3 separate regions of the Homo sapiens genome follow, and regions 1 and 2 are each linked to region 3. Evidence: fine-mapped expression QTL. A gene starts in region 3. Each other region holds a variant in brackets. All regions are shown on one strand. Distances are from middle to middle.

Region 1 (8,276 bases), 34 kb before region 3:
ACCGAGAAAACAAATTATATCAAAAACAAACAACAAACTTGTATACTGAAAACAATAAAACATTGCTGAAAGAAATTCAAGAACACCTAACTAAATGGAAAGAGATCTGTGTTCATGGCTAGGAAGACTTAATATTGTTAAGATGTCAATATTACCCAAAGATATTTACATATTCAATGCAATCCCTATCAAAATCTCAGCTGATTATTTTTTTCTTGCAGAAATGGAAAGACAGATCCTTAAATTCCTATGGAATTGCATGAGGCCTCAGATAGCCCAAACAATCTTAATAAAGTATAACAAAGTTGAAGAACAAACCGATTTCTTTCTTTCTTTCTTTTCTTTTTCTTTTTCTTTTTTTTTTTTACAGAGTTTTGCTCTCGTTGCCCAGGCTGGAATGCAAAGCCACAATAATCAAAACAGTGTGTTACTGGCATAAGGACAAATAGACCAATAGGATGGAATTCAGAGTCTAAAAACAAGTCCATATGTCCATAACCAATTGAAATTTTTTTTTTTTTTTTTTTGAGACAGAGTCTCGCCCTGTTGCCCAGGCTGGAGTGCAGTGGCGCGATCTTGGCTCACTGCAAGCTCCGCCTCCCGGGTTCACGCCATTCTCCTGCCTCAGCCTCTTGAGTAGCTGGGACTACAGGTGCCCGCCACCATGCCCGGCTAATTTTTTGTATTTTTAATAGAGGCGAGGTTTCACCGTGTTAGCCAGGATGGTCTCGATCTCCTGACCTCGTGACCCACCCGCCTTGGCCTCCCAAAGTGCTGGGATTACAGGCGTGAGCCACCACGCCCGGCCTAACCAATTGATTTTCAGTAAGAATGCCAAGTCCATTAAATGGGGAAAGTACAGTTTCTTCAACAAATGGGTCTGGGGTAACTGGATTTATACTTGTAAAAGAATGAAATTGGATACCTACCTCACCCCATATTCAAGAATTAACTCAAAATGGATTGATGACCTAAATATAAGAACTAAAACTATAAAACCCTAAGAAGAAAACATAAAGGTATATCTTCATGACCTTGGAATTGGCAATGAATTCTTAGCTATGGCACCAAAAGCATAAGCAACAAAAGAGAAAATAGATAAATTGAACTTCATGGCTGGGCACGGTGGCTCATGCTTGTAATCCCAGCACTTTGGGAGGCCGAGGTGGGCAGATCATAAGTCAAGAGATCGAGACCATCCTGGCCAACATTGTGAAACCCCGTCTGTACTAAAAATACAGAAATTAGCTGGGCGTGGTGGCACACGCCTGTAGTCCCAGCTACTCGGGAGGCTGAGGCAGGAGAATCGCTTGAACCCGGGAGGCGGAGGTTGCAGTGAGCCGAGATCTCGCCACTGCATTCCAGCCTGGGCAGCGGTGCAAGACTCTGTCTCAAAAAAAAAAAAAATTGAATTTCATAAAAATTTAAAGACTTTTGTGCATCAAAGGACATTATCAAAAAAGTGAAAAGCACCTACAGGATGGAAGAAAACATTTGCAAATTTTACAAGGGTTTAACATGTGGAATATATAAAGAACTCCTAAAACTAAGCAACAAAAAGCCCAGTTAAAAGATGGGCAAACAACTTAAATAGATATTTCTCCAAAAAAATACATACAAATGGCCAGTGAGCCCATGAAGAGTTGCTCAACATCATTAGACATTAGGGAAATGCAAATTAAAGCCACAATGAGATATCACTTTCTACCCATTATGATGGTTATAATTTTTTTAAAAAGGAAAGTAAAACGGTGAGGCTGTGGAGAAATTGGAACCCCTGTACATTGCTAGTGGAGACATAAAATGGTGCAGCTGCTATGGAAGAGAGTTTGGCATTCAAAGCGTGATGTAGGCTGAAAAAAAGAGTTTGGCAGTTCCTTCAAAAGCTAAGCATAGAACTATCACATGATTCAGCAATTCCACTCCTGGTATATACCCAAAAGATTTGAAAACATACTTGAATGCCTATGCTCATTGCAGCATTATTCACAGCAGCCGAAAGATGCAAACAACCCATGTCATCATCAACAGAAAACAAAATGTGGTCTATCCATTCAGTGGAATCTTAATTCAGTCAAAAAAGAATAAAGTTCTGATACTTGCTACAACTGGATGAACCTTGAAAACATGCTAAGTGAAATAAATGAGGCCGGGCGCGGTGGCTCATGCCTGTAATCCCAGCACTTTGGGAGGCCGAGGTGGGCGGATCATGAGGTCAGGAGTTTGAGACCAGCCTGGCCAACATAGTGAAACCCTGTCTCTACTAAAAATACAAAAAATTAGTTGGGAGTGGTGGCAGGCGCCTGTAATCCCAGCTACTTAGGAGGCTGAGGCAGGAAAATCACTTGAACCCGGGAGGGGGAGGGTGCAGTGAGCCGAGATCGCACCACTGCACTCCAGCCTAAGCGACAGTGCAAGACTCCGTCTCAAAAAAATGAAAAACAGACACGAAAGAACAAATATTCCACACATATGAAATATCCAAAATAGGCAAATTCATAGAGATGGAAAGCAGATTAGAGGTTACCAGGGACTGTGAGGAAGGGGAAATGTGGAGTCATTGCTTAATAATTACAGAGTTTCTCTTTGGGGTGATAAAAACAGATTTTTTATTAATTAAATAGATAATGATGATGTTTATACAACATCATGAATATACTTAATGACACTGAATTGCACACTCAAAAAATGGTTACAATGGCAAATTTTATATTTACCACAATAAATTTCCCTTTAAAAGAGGAAGACATAGGATCCAGGAAGCAAGACACACCAAGGAAAGAGACAAAGGGGATTTGCAGGCCAGTCACCGGTGGCTCACGCCTGTAATCCCAGCACTTTGGGAGGCTGAGGCAGGTGGATCTCTTGAGGCCAGGAGTTTGAGACCAGCCTGGCCAACATTGCAAAACCCGTCTCTACTAAAAATACAAAAAAGTAGCTGAGTGTGGTGGTGCGTGCCGTAATCCTAGCTACTTGGGAGGCTGAGGCAGAAGAATTGCTTGAACCTGGGAGTGGGAGGCTGCAGTGAGCCGAGATTGTGCACTCCAGCCTGGGCGACAGAGAGACTCTTACTTCAAATGAAAAAAAAAAAGGCAGAGGTGGGGACGGGTTTCCAGAGTGATGGGAAAGGAAGGGCCAGGTTCACCTCTGGACAGCTGTCTAGGTGAGAGTAGGAGGATGAACGGCTCTAAGAAAAATGGGGGGAAGAAAACAAACTGAAACTGGTATATTAATGTATCAAGAGGATATTTTAGCTTTATCAGAGAGTTATATACACATAATTATATATAATTCTCTAATAATTATATATATTGAATATGTTCAATTTCTAAAACCAAATGAAGCAACTATAAATTCAGGAAAAGCTGAAATGTGTGTTTGGAGGGGCATAATCTAAGCATTCATGTTCCATAGTAGGAAAGAAGCCACTTGAAAATGTTTTAAACTGAAAAATGGAAGAATAACAGTATAAGGCTATTAAGATACATGGAGGTAAATACCAAAGAAAGCAGCTTAAAAAGATGAGGAATGGGGCAAGGAACTGATCTTTTTCATTATTTGATTTTACACTTTGTACAATTATCACTTTCTAAAAATGTTTCCAGAAGGCAAACTGGGGCCCATATCTGGGCTATGTATGAGCTCTGTTGCCCAAGAGTCTGTTAGCCCATGTGGGTAATAGATTTTTCTCTGGTGGCCCTGTGTCTGTTATTCCCTTTGCCTATGGGTGAATCTGCAGGTGGGGCTGGGGGTGGGAATAGGGCTGGAGCCAGACTAAGGACAGAAAAGTGGGCTGAGGAATGTCAAAGTGAAGGGAATATTTCTGGAGGTAGATTTCCATTGGTTAAGTCTCTTGCTTTTCCCTTATGCCTGAGAACATGACTTTTACCTTCATACCCAAACAACAAAGTCCAGCCAGGGAGGGTGGGAGGGGAAAGAAGGAAGAGAGGAAGATGGGAAGGAGACGCATATCTGCAGTGGCCTATCTACACATATCTGCACGAGTGACCTTGGCTATTTCCTGCAGTATCACTGGGGGGAAGGGCAAGTTCAGCACTGCTGCTAGCCACGTTGGTTGGCACAACTTGTTACAGTCATTTGGTAGAGAGTTCATAATTAACCCAGCACTCACACTTAACAGGAGTTCATCTGTCAGAAATACTAGCGGAAGGCCACAGGATATTAAAGCAGAGATGTTTGCTGCAGCCTTGTTGGAAATATTGTGAAACTGCTAACAGTCAAAA[T/C]GTCCATCAGAAGGAACAGTAAATAGGGAATAGGGGTTGTGAAAACTCCACACTATGAAGTGTGGTGCAGCTGCTTAAAAGATGTATATATGAAAAAAAGTGAATTACTGATGGCCCATTTTCTGGAAAAAAAATGGATGCAGTTATATAGATTAATACATATAGATTAAGATTAATATACATATAGATTAAGACATAGACAAAAATCTGGAAGGATTGTCACCCTTTTTTTTTTTTTTTTGAGATGGAGTCTTGCTCTGCTGCCCAGGCTGGAGTGCAGTGGCATGATCTTGGCTCACTGAAAGCTGCATCTCCCAGGTTCATGCCATTCTCCTGCCTCAGCCTCCCGAGTAGCTGGGACTACAGGCACTCGCCACCACGCCTGGCTAACTTTTTGTATTTTTAGTAGAGATGGGGTTTCACCATGTTAGCCAGGATGGTCTCGATCTCCTGACCTCGTGATCCACCCACCTCAGCCTCCCAAAGTGCTGGGATTACAGGCATTAGCCATGGCGCCCAGCCGGATTGTCACCCTTTAGTTAACAGCAGCTGCCTCTGGAAATGAGATTGAAGATGGGCTGGAGGGAAAGCTTTTACTTTTTATTTGACATTCTTCTGTAAGTTGGAATTATTTGATACACTTTATGCAACCAATACCAGTATGTGGCGTGTTTGGGGGTTTTTTAAGCAGCTCTGGAAGAGCAGAGGAGAGGGAGCTTGGTGGCACAGCAGCAGCAGCAGCAGGAGCTCTGGAAAGGGCAGGACCTTGTGCGCTGCCCTGATTTGCTCTGTGCACTTGGGCCAGCTACCTCCCCTATCTGGACCAGGGCCAGACACATGCTGCTATGTGTGTTGGTGGAGGTGGGGTGTGTGGCCATGCAGGGCTCCTCCGGAGCACAGCAGAGCAGCCGGTGTTTAAGGCACCAGAATTACCAGAAAGTTGTTGACATTTTAATGGAAAGGCAATGGAGGAAGCAGTGTGAAAGTCAGCCTGCTCAGGAGGGGTCACTGGGCAGAGCTTTCCTTACCTGTCCAGGGGTCCAGGCCCTGCCTGTGCCCTGAGTTAGAACCCAGGGCCGGCCAGGCGCGGTGGCTCACGCCTGTAATCCCAGCACTTTGGGAGGCCGAGGCGGGCAGATCACAAGGTCAGGAGATCGATACCGTCCTGGCTAATGCAGTGAAACCCCATCTCTACTAAAAATACAAAAATTAGCTGGGCGTGGTGGTGGGCGCCTGTAGTCCCAGCTACTCGGGAGGTTGAGGCCGGAGAATGGCGTGAACCTGGGAGGCGGAGCTTGCAGTGAGCTGAGATCACGCCACTGCACTCCAGCCTGGGTGACAGAGCGAGACTCTGTCTCAAAGAAAAAAAAAAAAGAACCCAGGGCCTGGGAAGCTTTGGGTCAACCCCCGAGAAAGCCTTCCCTGTTCTCCAGGGTGAACTCATCTCTGGTTCCTGAGCCTCAAATCTCTGAAGGGCAGAGTGGGGCATAGGTTTCAACTCAGCTGTGATTCTCCCAGAACGGTGCCAGGGCAGTGCTTGGTCGGGTAGGCTGTGGGTGGCAGTCTTCGGCTTAACACAAGAAATTGCCAGAGGCTGGCTCAGGGGGAAATGAGCTGCCCAGTCCTGGAAGTTTCCATGAAATGACTGAACATAGGGGCTGGTGGCCCCCATTAGGGAAGGGGTGGAGGAGGGTGTTGTGTGAGACCAACCTTTCAGTTGCTGGTTCACTAGGTTCCAAGCGAAAGGGAAGATGACTCAGCGGAGGGAATCAGGGAAGGCTGTGTAGGAGTCAGCACTTAAGCTGGACCTTGAGAGAGTGCGGCAGTTCCAGTGTTGAAAGGGACTTCAGAAACCGTCCCTCCAGCAGGACACACCATCCGTCACCAATTCACATGAGGCTCAGGGAGCTGAAGTCAGTTGCCCATGGTCACATAACAAGTTGTGCTTTAAAAAATTCAGAGAGTCCCCCAGGCAGGGCCCATCCAGGAGCCAGTGTGTGCAGCCAGCTTGGTAATTCAGGTCCAGTGGTTAATTAGTAACTGGAAGGCCCCGAAGCCAGCTTCCAGCAGGCAGGGCTGGGAGGTTGAACTTGAGCCGGTTTGGGAGCCAGGAGCGAGTGGGTGACAGGTCATTCCTGACTGGGAAGGTTGCTTGACAAGTCAGGATTGTGCCTCCAGTCAGAAGGACCATGAAGAGAGAGAAGAGGGCAGAGCCGTGCATGGGGCTGCTCCCCAGGACCTGAGCAGGAACCTGGAGTTTTCAGGTGAGAGGCTCACCTGTGAGCAGGATACCTGCCTGCTCGCCTATTGGTCTCCAGATTGACTAGTTACCTAGCTAACATCTTTCCTAGTACCTGTTTACTTTCTTTCCTTCCTTTCTTCCTTGGCGACTTCTTTCCCTTCTCCCTCCTTCCTTTCCTTCCTTCCCTCCCAACTATCTGCTTTCTCAGCTGCCTAATTTTCTTCCTCCTTAACTAACCAACTTACATCCTCACTTCCTTCCCACTGACTTCATTTTTTCCTTTTCTAGCTTTCTATTGTCTTCCTGAAATTCCAGGCCGTGGGCTTTGCAGTCAGATGGCCTGGGTTCAAATCCTGGTTATGTCATTTATTAACTGTCTTGATCATGTCACTTCCCTGTCCTTGCCTCAGTTTTCTCCTCCTTGAAACAGGGACGATGATAGTTCCTAACCCGTGGGGTTGTGGGAACAAAATAAGATCAAGTTGGCACTTGAACTGGGCAGGCGTGTAAATGAACAAGTTACAGTGAAGACAGGGACAGCAGCAGGAGAGGGTGCATGGGATCGGAGGGTCATCTGGCTTCCAGGAAAGGCAATGAGAACAGGTGAAAAGGTGAGCTGGAAAGACCAGGTTTGTTGGGGAATGTTCCAAGGAGAGAGAACTGTGTGACACTGTCCCACCCCCACACCCCATTTGGCAGGGCCAGGGAGCTGTAAGCAGGTCCATGTAACAGTGGGACAGAGGGAGGCAAGTCTGGGCTGTGGCAAGTTAGGAAAGGGACAGGCTTGAGGACTCATGGAGGGGCTTGAGTGGGAGTTTGCGGAGTCTGAAGAGTTAGGAGAATATATTGATGTCCAGCTTCTGGCCAGAAAATTAGAACACCGTGGTGCGAGAGAGAAGAAAGCCTTAGGAACTGAGGGCTGCTTAGGCATGGGGGTCACAGTCAAGGTGATGGGGGAGGGTGTGATGGGCCATGGGCATGCCAGGTTCCCACCAGGAACTCAGTACTTGAATATTAACTCAACAGCAATATCTTGAGAAGCTTTACACAATAGTACAAAGATAAAAGTTAAAATAACCGGCCGGGTACAGTGGCTCACACCCGTAATCCTAACACTTTGGGAGGCCGAGGCAGGCGGATCACCTGAGGTCAGGAGTTTGAGACCAGCCTAGCCAACATGGTGGAACCTCGTCTCGACTAAAAATACAAAAATTAGCCGAGCGTCGTGACACATGCCCGTAATCCCAGCTATTTGGGAGGCTGAGACAGGAGAATTGCTTGAACCCAGGAGGCGGAGGTTGCAGTGAGCAGAGATTGCGCCACTGCACTCCAGCCTGGGCGACAGAGCGAGACTCCATCTCAAAAAAAAAAAAAAAAAGTTAAAATAACCTAACCTAAGAACCCGCTGTGACCTTGGGTCATGACCCTGCAGTCTTTTTTTGGCAGCTGTGCTCACAAATGTGTACGTGCAGACATGTCTTTTGTTTTTCTTTTACAAAATTGGTACCCCTACAACACCTACTATTTTGAAACTTGGTTTTTTGCTTGATATTGTATCACATGTATGTTCCTGTTTTGGTTTATATAGGTTTTATATAGTTTTTGGTTGTGTAATTTTCCACTTTATATATGTACCAACATTTATCAATTCATTTATTGATTCATTAGTCAAATTGTACTGGGCATCTACTATATTCCAGGCCCTGTGCTCAGTGCTGAGGATTCAATAGTTGAACAGGAAGTATTTGCCCTCCTGGAGCTGATGTTCTAGTTGGAGATAGAAAATAAAA
Region 2 (8,276 bases), 740 kb before region 3:
GGCACTTACACATTCCTTTGTGAGGCCAGCTGCTGGTTTAACCCATGGCCAGGCCTGGTCCTTTTTCTCCAAGCAACAGGGAAGGTGCTTAGAGGCCCATGGGCTTATCTGCAAAGCTATTTTCCTGGAGCTCACTTTGGAGCATCCCCTCCTGACCATGGTAGTGATTTGAGATCAGGTGTCTTCAAAGAGCAGCCCTTGGACCAGTCTACCTCCTGACGCCCTTTCTTCTCATCAGATGGAAAACTCACAGATGGGAAAAAACAAGCTGATTACCCGGGTCTCACTCCCCACAGACATCTTCCATCTTTGGTCCTCATTAGGGCTCTTGGTAGCTGGCTCGTTGCTAAGTCAAACTTGCAAGGCACAGTTTTTCTGCCACTTCTTTAGATCTGCACTTAATTACAGCTGTTCCTTCCTGTTGGCCATTCTCCACTGTTTCAAACATCCAAGATACTAGTCTTCTAATGTTCTTATCCTCTCATTAGAGTTGAACATTTTGTTCTTGTCTTACATCTATTCTGTTCCCTGCACAGCTCAAGAAGTACTTGAGTTTTTGCCTCTGCTTTTATGTTGCATAATAAATAGCATTCTGCCTGGTGTGACACTGAGAATAACTGAGTTACTACTTTCTATCAAAAGTATCTAAAGATCCATGAAGACTCACAAGGCTCCTTTCTGCTGTTAAAAGACTGTGCTTTTAACAACGCTGATTTCTATTATTCTTAACTTTATTAACTCTAATCTTACTCAACTCTAATCATCACTGTCTTGCATTTCTCCCTTTCCAATCCAATTCTTGATCCATTATAGGCATCTATAATTATAATACCTCCCTGCCTACCTGGGGTATTCCTTTTACTCTCAAAAATGTCCCTATTGAAACAAAAATAAATATGTCACCCCAACCATAGAGAATAAGATGTTTCCTGTTTATTTGCTATTGCTTCAGCTCAAGTTCCTGCTCTCCATGTGTCAAAGCAGGGGTCAGCAAATATTTTTCGTAAAGAGCTAGATAGTAAATACTTTTGGCTTTGCAACCATATCGTCTCTTTTGCAACTACTCAGTTCTGCCATGGTGGTGCAACAGCAGCCGCAAGCAATACGTAAATGAATGGGTGTGGCTATGTTTCAATACATTTAATTTACAAAACAAGCAGCAAACCAGATTTGGCCTGTACACCATAGTTTGCAATCTATGCTTATGTACGGACTGAGATAATGATCTGCCTTTCCCTCTAAAAAGCTGATTTTCCTAACAGCATTAATTATATAATCTATTATTTCCCAAAACGATTTAAGTCTACCATTATCACATAGTAAGTATTTACATAGACACAAATCATTTTCATTATCTTATTTTGTATTCTGTTTCAATTACATTTTATTTCACTAGCCACTAAATTGCTTATAGTATTAAGTTATTTTATAACTCTCTGTAACTTTTTGCTGTGCAAATCTCCCTTCTATTAAGGGACAAAATGTCCCTTTTGCCATTCTTATGCATTTCATCTTCTATCCAAACTTTACAATCATTTTTGTCAAGTTTTAAAAACATAAATATGTAATCACTTTGGGGGAGAATTGACATATTTATATGAATACACGTTTCCATTCAGAAACATGATATTTTTCCAAGTATTCAAGTCTTCTTTTATGTGCCTCTGTGTTAAAGTTTTCATGTTGTTCCTGCATTTTTTTTATCTTCATCCCAAGCTTTAAAAGATATTCTGTCCTGTTATGATTGGGTTTTTCTTTGCTCTATATATTACAATTTAAAAACTGCACATAGAAAAAACCTGCTAATTTTTTTTTAGAAATTTATTTCGTATCTGGTCCCTAAAACCTCTTGCTAATGCCAATGGGTTCTTCTTTGATGCCTCCTTCATATATTTTTTTAGAATACTAATCACACTTGTTCAGAGGGCTATGTCCTTTGATTTTCAGAGCCAGAGTATTTTTTCTTTTCCATCAGTTTGAGGATTTTTCTCCACTGGCTCATCCTAGAGATACAGCCTTCATTCATGGATTCTGTTCCCCACCAAGCCCAGCCTAGATACCTCCTCTATTTCACAAACCCTCTCATCTGACCTATCAACATGCCTTCTAGTTAGTGAGGCTTGTACTAATTTTACAGTGCTTGGGTGCAGAAGAGAACAGACTGAGAGGTAGGTGGGGCTGCAGAAACCCACTGGGAAACCTAGACCTCCCTAGAGAGTGAACACAAGTTCACTCAGAGTGGCCAAGAGAATATGACAAATGCAGGTTCCACCCAGGTTGCTAGCATACTTGAGGAGTCAAAGATGGTGGTGGAGCTGCCCAGCAAAGATGTTCAAGTGAAGGCATCAGGAGATGGGGATGCTGAGAGTCAGAAGCTAGATGATGAAGCAACAGCTTTGCTGCATTTCAGGATAAGAGCAAAGAAGCTAAATCTCAGGCACCCTTTGGTCTGATATATCTACATTAACTCAGCATTGTCAGTGCCTTTTAGCTCATGTGGCTTGGCCCTGAGTATTTTGGTCTCATTCAGGAATCACCATCTTAATCAAGAAAACTAAGCAGAAGCCTCATATGAAGAACTTTGTATTAGTTAAGGTTCTCCAGAGAAATAGAACCGACAGAATATATAAAGATATATAAGAGGAGACTTATGGAAATTGGCTCATGCAATTATGGAGGCCAGGAAGTCCCCCAGTATGCTGTCTGCAAGCTGGAGAATCAGGAAAGCCAGTGGTATAATTTAGTTCAAGTCCTAAAGCCTGAGAACTAGAAGAGGTGATGGCTGATGGTATAACTCTCAGTCTGAGGCCAAAGTCCTGAGAACCCAGGATGAGAAGGTGTAAGTCTGGAAGTCTGATAGCCCAACAACCAGAAGCTCCAATGCCCATGCATAGGAGAAGAGTCCTAGCTCAAGAAAAGAGAGAAAAAATGAACTCCTCTGCCCTTTTGTTCTATTCTGGTGCTCGAACGATTGGATTAAGCTTGCCCACATTGGTAGACTTCTTTACTAAGTCTTCTGATTCAAATGCTAATCTCATCTAGAAACACCCTCACAGGCACACCCAAAATTAATGTTTTACCAGATATCTGAGCATCCCTTAGACCAATCAATTTAACACTCAGAATTAACCATCACAACCTTGTATACGTTTTCCTCAGAATGACTGCATGCCAGGATTGCGCCAGCAGGCTGACTTTAATCACTACTATCTTGAGAGATGGGCTCCTAAAATACAGCAAAGTTGAGCTGGATCTGAATAGACTAACCCCGTGGCTGAGCAAATCTGGGCAGGACCAGATGGAAAATGGGCTAATTCTGTACCACCCATTATCAAATCACATATATGTCTAGATCTGTGTCAACAAATCCTTTCCAACCCACCAAATCAAATCATTGGAGTAGAACTGGGGAGACCTGCAGTACCATTACGGCTCACAATACCTCGTCACAACATGACTCTGGATCTCCTTATACCCAGAGTGTTTCTGTCTGGAGAGTAGGATGTAATGGTGACATTCCATCTTCCTTTCCATACGTACCCATTTGTTTCCTTTTATTTGTTCATTCATTCGTTCATTTGGCAAATACTTACCAAGCCTACTGTCTGGCAGGCACCTTACTAGGTACTGAAAATAGAGACAGGAATAAGGAACTCTATCCTTGAAGCACACATCCTATTCACGCATGGTTTAAGGAGGCCAAGACATAGCAAGTTTGAACACCTTGACAAAGGAAAGAAACTAGGGAGGTACAACCAGAGTTTAATCAAGGACTGTTTAACTTACCACACCTGCTATCACTCAGAATTCTCACAGGAAGCTTCCCTAGGCACACTGTGACAGAATGGGTGGGGGAAACTCTTCCTAACACCACCTGACATGTGCCTTGCACCCACCACAGGCATGGTACCTTGAAGCAGAGTAACAGACCAGTCAGATGATCACATCTCCCTCACCTATAGAGACTCATGATGATGTCTTACTGCCTAGGAAACAGTACAGTAGCTAAAGCAATCACTGGGGGAAAAAATTCTGAAATCTCTAAGCATTGCTCATTAGCATAAAGCTTGGAGAGGTCTGATAAAGTTCATGGCTTATCTCCAAGCCTGCTTGCTTCCTCTCTGCCCAGAGCAGCAGCTGGGCAAGGGATTGCCTTCTTTGCAAAGAAGCAAATTAAATTAAATTAGATCAGTTATACCAGCACCACCAACAGCAGAAGCATCTTCAATAAAATTAAGATCTCGAAATGAAAACAAGGAAATCATCTTCTAAAAACCTAATCCCATTGCCCAGTTTGAAGGCGCTCACTACTGAGACCTCCTGTGGCAACTTTACATGAACATTTGGGAGCAGGGAACTAGGGGAGACCTGGCAGCATCGTTGGGTAACCCAGGATCTGGGCCTTTTGTTTGTTGTTGTTTTAGTCTTAGGGAAGCACATATCCAATCACACACTTGATATATAAATAGGCCATTTCAGTGAATACAGTCATTGGAAACCTTTTCCAATAAGAGCATGTCATACTGGCTATGAAAGAGTGTATTTATAATCACACAGCATGGTATAGTGGAAAGAATGCCAGGTATTCCAGAAAATATGGTGGTTTGCACACCATTTCACAGAACCTCCATCTTCAAAGTTGACTGAAATGAACAAAATGAATTAAAATGAACAACAAAAATATTATTAATTCTGAAACTCAGAAACTGCCCCAACCTCATGCTATAGGTTTTAAGTGCCACCTGGGCCAAAATGAAAGAAGAGTAATCTATGTTCATGCTTTTTTTTTTTTTTTTTTTTTTGGAGACAGAGTCTCACTCCACCCAGGCTGGAGTGCTGTGGTACAATCTCGGCTCACTGCAACCTCCACCTCCTGGGTTCAAGGGATTCTCATGCCTCAGCCTCCCAAGTAGCTGGGATCACAGGAGTGCGCCACCACACCCAGCTGATTTTTGTATTTTTAGTAGAGACATGGTTTCGCCATGTTGGCCAGGCTTGTCTAGAACTCTT[G/A]ACCTCAAGCAATCTGACCACCTCAGCCTCCCAAAGTGCTGGTATTACAGGCATGAGCCATCGAACCCAGCCCATCCTCCCTTTCAAGATGGAAAAGTACTGTTGGCAAGGAAAAAAAAAATGTGTAATGGACAGAAAAGCTGAATGATATAGCTCCTAATTTGAAGAGAACAAATTGGAAAGGTGTGAATATTCCACTTGGAGCTCGTTTTTCCCATTTTGGATTGACTCCTTCCCTAAATCCCTTCCCAGAGCCATTCTGGGAATTATCAGGCAGAAACCAGTTATCTCATATGAGGACTCAAATGGGCAAAGACAAGAAAATGAATGGGTTTAGAAAAACAAACGACAAAAGTCCATGAAACAGAAGGACCTCTCATTAAAGCAGCTGACTCATTTTGAAACAGGTGAGCAAACTGAAGCTTTAGGGGACCACCCACCCCAGGAAGAGGATCAACTGACAATTCAATAGACCTAAATCTAGTGTCAGAATTTCAATAAATTTAGAGACAGATTAGAGACAAAGCCCCCAGAGGCTTTTTGCAAGTCCTCAGCAATTTCCTCTCCCATAAGAGAGCAGTCAAACTGTAACCAAGTAAATTGGGAAAATAGCAAAGGCAAATTCAGCATTACCAATTTGGATCAAATAACACCATCAGGTAACTGCCCCCACTGATATAGTGGTCAAGTAGAGGGGGAAAAGTACAAGACTTAAAGGAAGATTGTGTGTCCCCCACAGTAGGTTTCACACGCAAAGATTTTTTTTTAAAACTCACCCTGGAAGAAGAGATGCTCCAGGAAACATAAATAGATCACTGCTTTGTAATCCCAGGAAAATTAAAGAGAATTTAAGCTCTACGAAACAAGCAATTAAAGGGTGAGAAAACATGACAGTTGTTCAAGACCGGGAGTGTATCAGCTTCTCGACAACACCCCCAGGTTCCCCCAGGGTTGTCTTCTGGGCAACCTCCCAGGTACTGTCCTCTCATCAATACTAGATCCGCTGCAGTTCCTGAACATGTGACGGCACAGTATGTAAAAATGCATATACTATTAGGGCTGGAGGACCCTCATCTAGTCATCGTCAATGACAGGACAATAAAAACCAAGTTCACGTATTTATTAAGTGGCAAAGCTATAGCTTAGACCCCAACCTGACCCTACATGTATAAAGAGGAAAGAAGAGGGATGAAGATAGGATGTTGGGAGGGAAAAAGGAGGAGAAAAAAGGGAGAGAAAATGGAAGATGGAAGCAACAGCTGGGGTGCAGTAAAAAGGGGCACTGGACTAGCCAGAAAACCTACCATGAATCAAATCTGAGTACATGCCTTCAATTTCTGGGGCTACATGCCCAACAAACAGAATTGTTGGGTCACATAGTCACTTGATGTTTAAATTTTGAGAAATTGCCAACTGTTTTCCACATTAGCTGCACCATTTGGCATTCCCATCGGCAATGTACAAGGTTCTAATCTCTTAGCTCTAGCACTCACTATGTTGCATGACTCTGAAAAAGTCATTTTATTTATCTGAACCTCACTTTCTTTTTCTCTAAAGAGTAGGGGTTAGAACTAGCTATCCTGTTTCTGCCTATTCACACATTCTTTCTTTCCATCCAAATCCTGACCTTCCACTGCCCACATCTGTTTCCAAGAGTTTCCTGACAGTGTGAAGTACTGTAATGAGTAAGTCCTAGCTCTGCTCCTTAGAGCTAGAATTATCTTAATCCATATCCCCAAGTTATATTAATGCACTTCCATTTCCATCCATATCTCTCAGCGTACATTTTTTCTCTCTTGTCTATTCTTTTAACCTTTTTGCAAGCATCATCTTGTTCTGTCTGTCGGCTGTCAGCTTTTCTCTCCGAGCTTCTGCGGAGTTGCCAGATTCTTGACTATTTCCCCACCCTCAGCTCATAACTGTTTTTCCCTGGAGCTCAGCGACTGCTAAGTGGTCTTTGTGAAATCCTATTAGGATAATCTCCCTGTCTGTGTCTCCTCTCAGCTGGGCTGCCTCTAGAAACCTCAGCTGTCTTCCTACTCACAATCGGCAAATCATAGGCTGGCTCCTGAGTCATCCAACATCGTACTTATTCACAAACATGCTTAGATGAGCTCTGAACCTGTCGAATCTTGTAGCCCACAAGCAAGAGTTAAATTCACTGGAGATTCAACTCATATGTCTTCTCCTGCAGAAGGTGTCTCCTGTTTATGCGGGACCCCTATTCCCTCTACAATCCCAGGAATGACACCTGCCCCCTTTTTACTTTTTCTGTTTCTGTTTATGTTTATCATCTATCTCTCTCATCAGACTGTGAGATTCATGAGAGCAAGGAGCTGGAGTATCTTGTCCAAAGCTGTATCCTCAGTGCCTGGCATATTACAGGCCCTCAGTACATGTTTGTTGAATTCATGAATACGTGTTCCTCTTCCATAGAGTCAATCATGGATCTGCCTACCTGTCTACCTATTAGACCCAAAGCTACTTTGGGGCAGACTGAGATTTACCTGCCATGGTAACACTTGTTAAAAATAAAATTACTCTGACACTTGTTAAAATGGTAAGGAAGACATTATTCAAGATTATTGCAATGGAGGAGAGAAATTAGGCAAATATAACAAAGACAGCTGGGGATTTAGAGCCAAGGAACAGAGTGAGTGGATGAAAAATTACCAAGAGGAGACAAGGGTAGGGAGATTCTTGCTAAAACAACTTACCAGGGTTCTTACCGAAGGCAGGCCAGGATGATCAGATAGTGCTATCATCCGAATGTTTGTGGAGGCCAAAACTCGTATGTTGAAACGCTAACCGCCAAGGTGATGGTATTAAGCGATGAGGACTTTGGGGAGATGAATTAGGTCATGAAGGAATGGGATTAGTGTCCTTATAAAAGGGACCCCAGAGAGCTGCCTTGCCTCTTCCATCACATGAGGACACAACTAGAAGGTGTCATTTTTTAATGAAGAGAGATCTCACGAGATATGGAATCTTCTAGCACCTTGATCTTCAACTTCCCAGCCTCTACAACTGTGAGCAATAAATTTCTGTTGCTAAGAATTAGTTTATGGTACTTTTTTATAGAAGCCCAACTGGACTGACAGATGTCAAGGGGTTGGGGGATCCTCAGTAGGCTAACCTAGCAGAGTTCTTGCTAAAACTGGGCTAGACAGGCCACAGACAAGATAGCCAAAATCAAAGCCTAGTTGAGAAGGGAATTCAGAGGAGCATGACTAAAATTTGGTCAAGGGGAGAGTCTTTGTCACCCC
Region 3 (8,000 bases):
TTTGCTCTTGTTGCCCAGGCTGGAGTGCAGTGGCACGATCTCGACTCACCGCAACCTTCGCCTCCCAGGTTCAAGCAACTCTCCTGCCTCAGCCTCCTGAGTAGCTGGGATTACAGGAATGCGCCACCAGGCCTGGCTAATTTTGTATTTTTAGTAGAGACAGGGTTTCTCCATGTTGGTGAGGCTGGTCTCCAACTCCCGACCTCAGATGATCCGCCCACCTCGGCCTCCCAAAGTGCTGGGATTACAGGCGTGAGCCACCGCACCCAGCCAAGATTAGTCATTTCTAAAGATAATTCTGATCGGACAGAACGTGAGCGGTAACACCTCATAAATTCAGAACACCCTGCACTTGTGGGATGGATTGTGCTTCCTTACTTCAGTGGAAAAGTGGTTCGTTTCGGCTGGGCGTGCTGGCTCACACCTGTAATCCCAGCACTTTGGGAGGCCGAGGTCAGGAGTTTGTAGACCAGCCCGGCCGGTATGGTGAAACCCTGTCCCTACTAAAAATACAAAAATTTAGCTGAGTGTGGTGGTGCATGCTTGTAGTCCCAGCTACTCGGGAGGCTGAGACACGAGAATCACTTGAACCCGGGAGGCAGAGGTTGCAGTGAGCCAAGATCGTGCCACTGCACTCCAGCCTGGGCGACAGAGTGTGACTGTCTTATTAATAAATAAATAAATACGAAAAGTGGTTTGTTTTTTTACAAATGTGTGGTTCATACTCCTGGGTGGCCTTATTAGCTTTTTTGGTTGGGAGACAAGGGAAGGAACTTTCTTGGATCAGTGTGTGCTGGTGATTTTATTGCCTTTTCCTCTTAATTCAATCCCACTCTTTCCCTTCCTCAAGTCTTGTTCACCCAGCCTCCTGCCCCAGGAATCACGGGGAAGAAGTCTGGGAGACCACAGAAAAAACACCAATGACACTGAGCTATTAGAGATCAAAACTGGGTCAGGAAGAGTTCATGTTAAGCTTTCACATGTGCTAAGAACGCTGAAAGATACACACTGATTTCCATCTTAATAGTGCCAGATAATTGACAAATTTGGGACAAGATGAGGGAGAGGTCAAAATCCCCCTAACTTCCCAAAGCAAAAAAACAGGAGTATAATGATCAGAAACGTAATAGTAGTGTCAGAAGCACACAATCAGCTGTGGACGGTGAAACATATAATGGTTCTATCTGTTCTGAGATTGTAAAAGCACAATTATTTTCATCAGGATAAAAAATAAAAATGAAAAACTATGCTGTTGAATGGAACATGCTACAACCTATGTTTATTGAGCACATTCCAAGTTTTATATGCATTATCTACAATCCTCACTATAAGCCAGCATTTAGAAATTATGAACTTCAGACTGGGCGCAGTGGCTCACGCCTGTAATCCCAGCACTCTGGGAGGCCAAGGCAGGCAATTCACGAGGTCAAGAGTTCAAGACCAGCCTAGCCAAAATGGTGAAACCCCGTTTTTACTAAGAATACAAAAATTAGCCGGGCATGGTGGCGGGTGCCTGTAATCCCAGCTACCTGAGAGACTGAGGCAGGAGAATTGCTTGAACCCAGGAAGCGAAGGTTGCAGTGAGCGGAGATCATGCCATTGCACTCCAGCCTGGGCAACAGAGCAAGACTCAGTTTCGGCAAAAAAAGAAAGAAAGAAAGAAATTATTAACTTCGCTTTACAGATAGGATACATTTGCTCAGAGATTATGAAAACTGCCCAAGGTCACCCAGCTGGTACAAGTCACAGCGAGGAATTGAACTTGGTGACAACTACTGATTCTAAAAGTCTTACTCTTGCTTTTTTGGGGGGGGAAGCGGGGACGGAGTTATGCTCTTGTTGCCCAGGCTGGAGTGCAATGGCGCAATCTCAGCTCACTGCAACCTCTGCCTCCTGGGTTCGAGTGATTCTCCTGCCTCAGTCTCCCAAGCAGCTGGGATTACAGGCGGCCGCCACCACACCCGGCTAATTTTTTGTATTTTTATTTTTATTTTATTTTTTATAGAGACGGGGTTTCACCATGTTGGTCAGGCTGGTCTCGAGCTCTTGACCTCAAGTGATCCACCTGCCTTGGCCTCCCAAAGTGCTGGGATTACAGGCGTGGGCCACTGCACCCGGCCAAAACTCTTACTCTTTCTGCAATCTCTAACAGTGGGAGAAATGCTCTGGGCAGGTGCTGTAGCAAACACTGACTGCATATCAGGCAGAAAGATCCCAAGATTTGTCCCAGCCTTCAAATGGGACGGCCTACTCTCTCTTCAGTGAGAATACTTCATTTCCATTATTACCCTAACTGCAAACTGTATTCACCCAATTCTGCACCAAAATACAGCATCCCCAAGAAGAGAACTTTTTTTTTTTAAGAGACAGAGTCTCACTCTGTTGCCCAGGCTGGGGTGCAGTGGAGCGATCATGGCTCACTGCAGCCCGAACTCCTGGGTTCCAGCGATCTTCCCACCTCAGCCTCCCAAGTAGCTAAGACTACAGGTGTGTGCCACCATGCCTGGCTAATTTTCTTTTTTTATTTATTATTACTATTATTATTGGAGAGAAAAGGTGTTACTGTTACCCAGGTCCCAGACTCCTGGCCTCAAGCAGTCCTCCCACCTTGGCCTCCCAAAATGCTGGGATTACAGGCAGAAGCCACTTCATCTGACCAAAGAGAATTCTCAAATCACCCTGTTCTCCACTTTCTTTTTGAGACAAGGTCTCACTGTGTTGCCTAGGCTAGAGTGCGGCGGCACCATGACGGCTCACTGCAGCCTCAACCTCCTAGGATCAATCAATCAATCCTCCCACCTCAGTCTCCCAAGCAGCTGGGACTACAGGCGCGCGCCACCACGCCCAGGTAATTTTTCCTATTTTTAGTAGATACCGGGTTTCGCCATGTTGCCTAGGCTGGCCTCAAACTCCTGGGCTAAAGAGATCCACCTGCCTCGGCCTCCCAAAGTGCTGGGATTACAGGAGAGAGCCGCTGCGCCCGGCCCGTCTCCACTTTTAAAATTTCCAGTGACAGAAATTGTGGAAAGCAACACGAGTTGTATGTGTTTTAATATCCTAGATTCGAAGACAAACATAAATGTAAATAAAAACTGTCAGAGCTCTCTGCAATCTTCAGTTTGGGTCTTCCAGGCTGCTGCAGCGTTGTTCACAAATCCACACACCTCTAAAGGCAGGCACAGAGCGCTTTCCTGGGTAGTCGGGTGGCCTGTTGGTAGTTGCAGGCTTCTGGTTTCCCATCTTAATGGCGATGGCAGGGCAACCTGTATTGGTGGTGCTTTTGCACAAGCAGTTCTTTCTGCCGGGAACGCCCTTCCCCAGCCTTTGCCTTAATGAATACCACTCTCTCTTCAAATCTCTGCTCAACAGGGGCGCCTTTTTGACCAGCTTAGTCGTTAGACTCCCTAATACAGTTCATAGTTTTCACATTTTTGTAGAATCTATTCAAGTTCTAACTCCCCGCCATGCTCGCCGGCGCTCAAGCCTAGTACCATGGCAAGCAAAGATGCGGAGTTAATAAAACAGAATTATACGGTTTATCATTCTCAACACTAAACCTGCGCACCCTTTTCCGTTAAGTAGTTCCTAATAGTCCAGCACAGCCTTCCGCCCGGCCCCGCCCTCGCCTGGCTCCACTCTGCTCCTGCGCTTTGGGAATCGAAGCTGGGGCGTTCTCCAACCCCCCCGCGCTGGAAGCCTTCACTATTCTCCTCCCTGTGGGTGGAGCGAAGTTTGGGCACTTGGGTCCTACCGTTGTTATTAGTCTTTACTCGTAATTGATACTAAAGAACAAAATTAAATGGGTTTATTTTTGGTGAAAAGTTAATTCTCCTTATGTTTGGATTTGCCCCTCATGCACCAAATGGTACAGCCCCACATCAGTCAGGCTGCCTACCCCTGACGCCTGCGACGGAGAGGCGCCTTCCGTGCTGTCGTCATCACGTCGGCCGGAGCTAGCGCTGCGTCCTGGGCCACGCCTCCCGGCGCACCGACGCGCCTCTCCGGTTACTAAGCGGCCTTGGATACCTGGCCGCGGGATGCTGGGCGGCGTCAGGTGAGCGGTGGTCGCTGGGCCTCAGGTAAAGGGCGCCAACAGTGGTGGGCCGGCTGGGGCGTTGGTGCGGCCTGGGAGCTGGCGAGGGACTCGCCGCACTCTTCGAGGCCGCTGGGCCGGTCATAGAACATCCAGGGTCCCCCGGGGTGAAGTAAACTGTGGGCGCGGACGTAGCCCGGGTTCCTGGCGCCCCGGCTGGGCGCCCATCTCCACGGCCTCGGGTGGTGCAGGTGTTTAGTCGTTCCGCTGACTATGAAAGAGCATGGGACGAGGAATCGTACAGTCTTAATCTCTCTTCTGTCGTGGCTGCGACCCCTCGGTATTCATGTGGGAAAATACTGATTTGACTGGTAATGTTATTGAAGAGAAAGCGAGAGAATGGTTTGGCAGCGTTACCCAAATATTTGTTATTTTTATAGTTTTAAAGGCCTTATACTATTATTAAGGAAATGCATTTCTGGCTAAGTCTGACAGTACAGGAACGCAGACCTGCTACTCTCACCAGGGGCTGAACTAACAGAACAAAAAAAGATAGATGTATCACGGTGGTGGGACCATGGAGGGGGCAGTTTTTCAACTGGACAAAATGATGTTAAAGTGCTTAAAGAAGGATAAATATGTGAAAGTAGCCAGGAAAATTCTAAAATTAATGCTAATAAGGGAGATTAGCTCTCCAGAACCACCAGATATTATAACATAAAGGTATAGCAATTAAACTAGCATAGAAGATGGGTGCAGCAGTGTGGGCCCGTAGTCCTGGCTACTTGGTAGGCTGAGGCGGCAGGATCCCTTGAGCCCAGGAGTCAGAGACCAGCATGGGTATCAAAAGGAAACCCTGTCTCTGAAAATAAATAAATTAATTTAAAAAGTTTGGGACTCAGCAGGAGCTTACAGGTAGATAAAATATATTAGAACTCAGAATAAGAGCGATTTATATATAGGGATTTATTATATAGGCGAGGTGGTACTGTATTTCAAATCAGCATTGAAGAGATGAATTGGGGTCAGGCAGCTTTTTTAGCAATTTAGAAAATAATTAAACCAGTCGAGCGAGGTGGCTCACACCTGTAATCCCAGCACTTTGGGAGGCCAAAGCGGGTGGATCACTTGAGGTCAGGAGTTCCAGACCAGCCTGGCCAACCTGGTGAAACACCGTCTCTACTATGGCGCGCGCCTGTAATCCCAGCTACTGGGGAGGCTGAGGCAGGAGAATTGCTTGAACTTGGGAGGCGGAGGTTGCAGCGAGCCGAGATTGCACCACTGCACTCCAGCCTGGGTGACAGAGCAAGACTATGCTTTGAAAAAGAAGGAAAAAAAAAAGGAATGAAGCCCATTTTGAGCACCACAATAATTTCCAAATGGACTAAAATTTAAATGTTAAAAAATTACATCACGAATTAGCCGGGTGTGTTTGGGCGCCTGTAGTCCCAGCCGCTTGGGAGGCTGAGGCACGAGAATCTCTTGAATCTGGGAGGCAGAGGTTGTGGTGAGCCGAGATCGTGCCACTGCACTCCAGCTTAGGCCACAGAGCAGACTCTCTCAAAAAAAAAAAAAAATTACATCATGAAGTACTGAAGTAAAGCATTGTTGAATTTATTTATAATCTTAGAATGACAAAAAACTCTTCTAAGTGTTTCATGTCATCCAGAAGCCAGGAAGGAAAAGATTCATACTTTTAACTCTATAAAATTTAAAATCTATATGGCCTGCAAAATTCAACCAAACCAAAAAAACTACCAGAAGCCAAATAAACTTATGAAAATGTTTGTTTAATGATCAATTAGAAAATTATGAAACCCGACTGGGTGCAGTGGCTCATGCCAGTAAACCAGCACTTTGGGAGGTTGAGGTAGGAGGATCACTTGAGGTCAGGAGTTCAAGGGCAACATAGCGAGACCTTGCTTCTACAAAAAATTTAAAAATTAGCTGGACACTGGTGCGCGCCTGTAGTCCCAGCTACCCATGAGGTTGAAGTGGGATGATTGCTTGAGCCTGGGAGGTCAAGGCTACAGTGAGTTGTGATTGCAGCACTGCACTCCCAGCCTGGGTCACAGAGTGGGACTTTTATCTCAAATAATAATAATAAGAAGAAGTTTTTAAAAAGAAAAATTTAAAGAGAAAAATGATCAAGAGTACCTGGACAAGAAAATCAGAAGAAATACAAGTGGCAAAAATCTATAGCAAGAGACAACTATCTCACTAACTTCAAAGTGGAAATTAAAACAGTAATGAGGGGGGTTTTTTGGCCCTTTATTGGCAAACATGACAAAGACTGGAAATAGGATTGTGTGGAAACAGAAGGGTGTTAGTGGAAATATAAATGAGTATAACTTTTTGGAGGGCAATTTGGAAATGATTTACTCAGCCATTCAATAGATAAGAATCTCTACAAATATGCAAATTGCAGAAAAACATGTTGTTTAACATTGATGTTTTTAGTATTGTTTTAGAAAATATTTGATAAAAGATGTCAGCCAGTAGATGACTGGTTAAATAAATTATGGTAGATCCATAAAATGAATACTGTGTAGCTGTTTTTGTTGTTGTTGTTGTTTAAAGACAGGGTCTTGCTGTGTTCTCCAGGCTGGAGTGCAGAGTGGCGTGATTGTGGCTCACTGCAGCCTTAACCTCTTGGGCTCAAGCAATCCTTTCACCTCAGCCTCCCGAATAGCTGGGACTACAGATATGTGCCACCATGCCCTGCTAATTTTTTTTGTAGAGATGTGGTTTTATCATGTTATCCAGGCTGGTCTGGAACTGCTGAGCTCAAGCGATCCTCCCACCTCAGCCTCTCAAAGTGCTGGAGTTACAGGCGTGAGCCACTGCACCCAGCCCTGTGTAGCTGTTTAAAAGAATATGGTAGATCCATGTGTACTGACAAAGAAAGATGTCAAATATACAAGGTTAGGTGAAACAGGTGTTTCAGAATAATGCATATGGTAAGATCCTATTTCATAAAATAAAACTGTAAGTTAATATATGTATAAAAAGAATCTCGAGCTGGGTGCAGTGGCTCACACCTGTAATCCCAGCACTTTGGGAGGCCAAGGCAGGTGGATCATGAGGTCAGGAGTTTGAGACCAGCCTGACCAACATGGTGAAACCCCGTCTCTACTGAAAATACAAAAATTAGCTGGGCATGGTGACACGTGCCTGTAATCCTGGCAACTCAGGAGGCTGAGGCAGGAGAATCGCTTGAACCCGGGAGATGGAGGTTGCAGTGAGCCAAGATCACACCATTGCACTCCAACCTGGGAGACAGAGCAAGACTCCGTCTCAAAAAAAAGAAAAATAGAATCTAGAAGACTATACCCTGCGCTTAACAGTAGTTAGCAGTAATGAATCAGGATGGAAACATGGTCTTGGGACACAAGAGCAGGGTGATGGCAGGGCAGAGCCATAGGTGTAGGCTGTTGGGAGGATCTGGGCAAGAGGCAGAAAGCAAAAGCGGGTAGGGGAGGGCTGGGTTGGTTTTGGTCTTAGGTTTCTGTGCTATGCTTTTGCATTTCACTCTCAACCTTTGAGAATTGTAGGAGTTTCCTAGATAGGTTTCAGTTGTATACCCTTTCTTGATAAATTAGTAGTAGAAGGCAACTATTTATTACTTTTAGGGTCTTTGGAATATTGTTTATTGATTTTCTGATCCCATCTTTCTTCCATAAGGTAACCATGGAGAAAGAGCTGCGGAGCACCATTCTTTTCAATGCCTACAAAAAGGAGATATTTACCACCAACAATGGCTACAAATCCATGCAGAAAAAACTTCGGAGTAATTGGAAGATTCAGAGGTGACTGACCATGTATATTGTTTTCCCTTCTAAATGATATTGTCCTGCTGATAAAGCTGAGAAGTCTTTATTTTCTTAGGTAACATAGATTGTTTAGGTGGGAGAAGCTCAATTTAAAGATTATTCAGAATTAGGTCTGGCGTGGTGGCTCACACCTG

Alleles and levels. Positions count from the first base shown, and alleles are read on the strand shown. Sizes are in standard deviations (SD) of each study's normalised expression. Not every link is listed here.
For the expression in nucleus accumbens of the gene that starts at base 3,962 in region 3, allele A in region 2 goes with a higher level than allele G (large effect, 0.85 SD a copy in GTEx).

The links.
Region 1: its variant is fine-mapped to the expression of IFT52 in whole blood (TOPMed, PIP 0.95).
Region 2: its variant is fine-mapped to the expression of IFT52 in nucleus accumbens (GTEx, PIP 0.94).

Annotation. Positions count from the first base shown.
Region 1 is chr20:43,552,652-43,560,927 of GRCh38, forward strand. SGK2 (serum/glucocorticoid regulated kinase 2) reads left to right here and starts at 6,376. Exons shown (of 13, transcript NM_170693.3): 1 at 6,376-6,508. The variant T/C (reference allele first, on the strand shown) is at 4,245.
Region 2 is chr20:42,850,650-42,858,925 of GRCh38, forward strand. The region is part of intron 2 of PTPRT (protein tyrosine phosphatase receptor type T); the gene reads right to left. Among named protein-coding and RNA genes, the nearest start is that of PTPRT-AS1, 110 kb to the right of the region's middle. The variant G/A (reference allele first, on the strand shown) is at 5,011.
Region 3 is chr20:43,586,976-43,594,975 of GRCh38, forward strand. IFT52 (intraflagellar transport 52) reads left to right here and starts at 3,962. Exons shown (of 14, transcript NM_016004.5): 1 at 3,962-4,079; 2 at 7,718-7,842. The coding sequence starts at 7,724. RefSeq lists an enhancer at 4,084-4,153.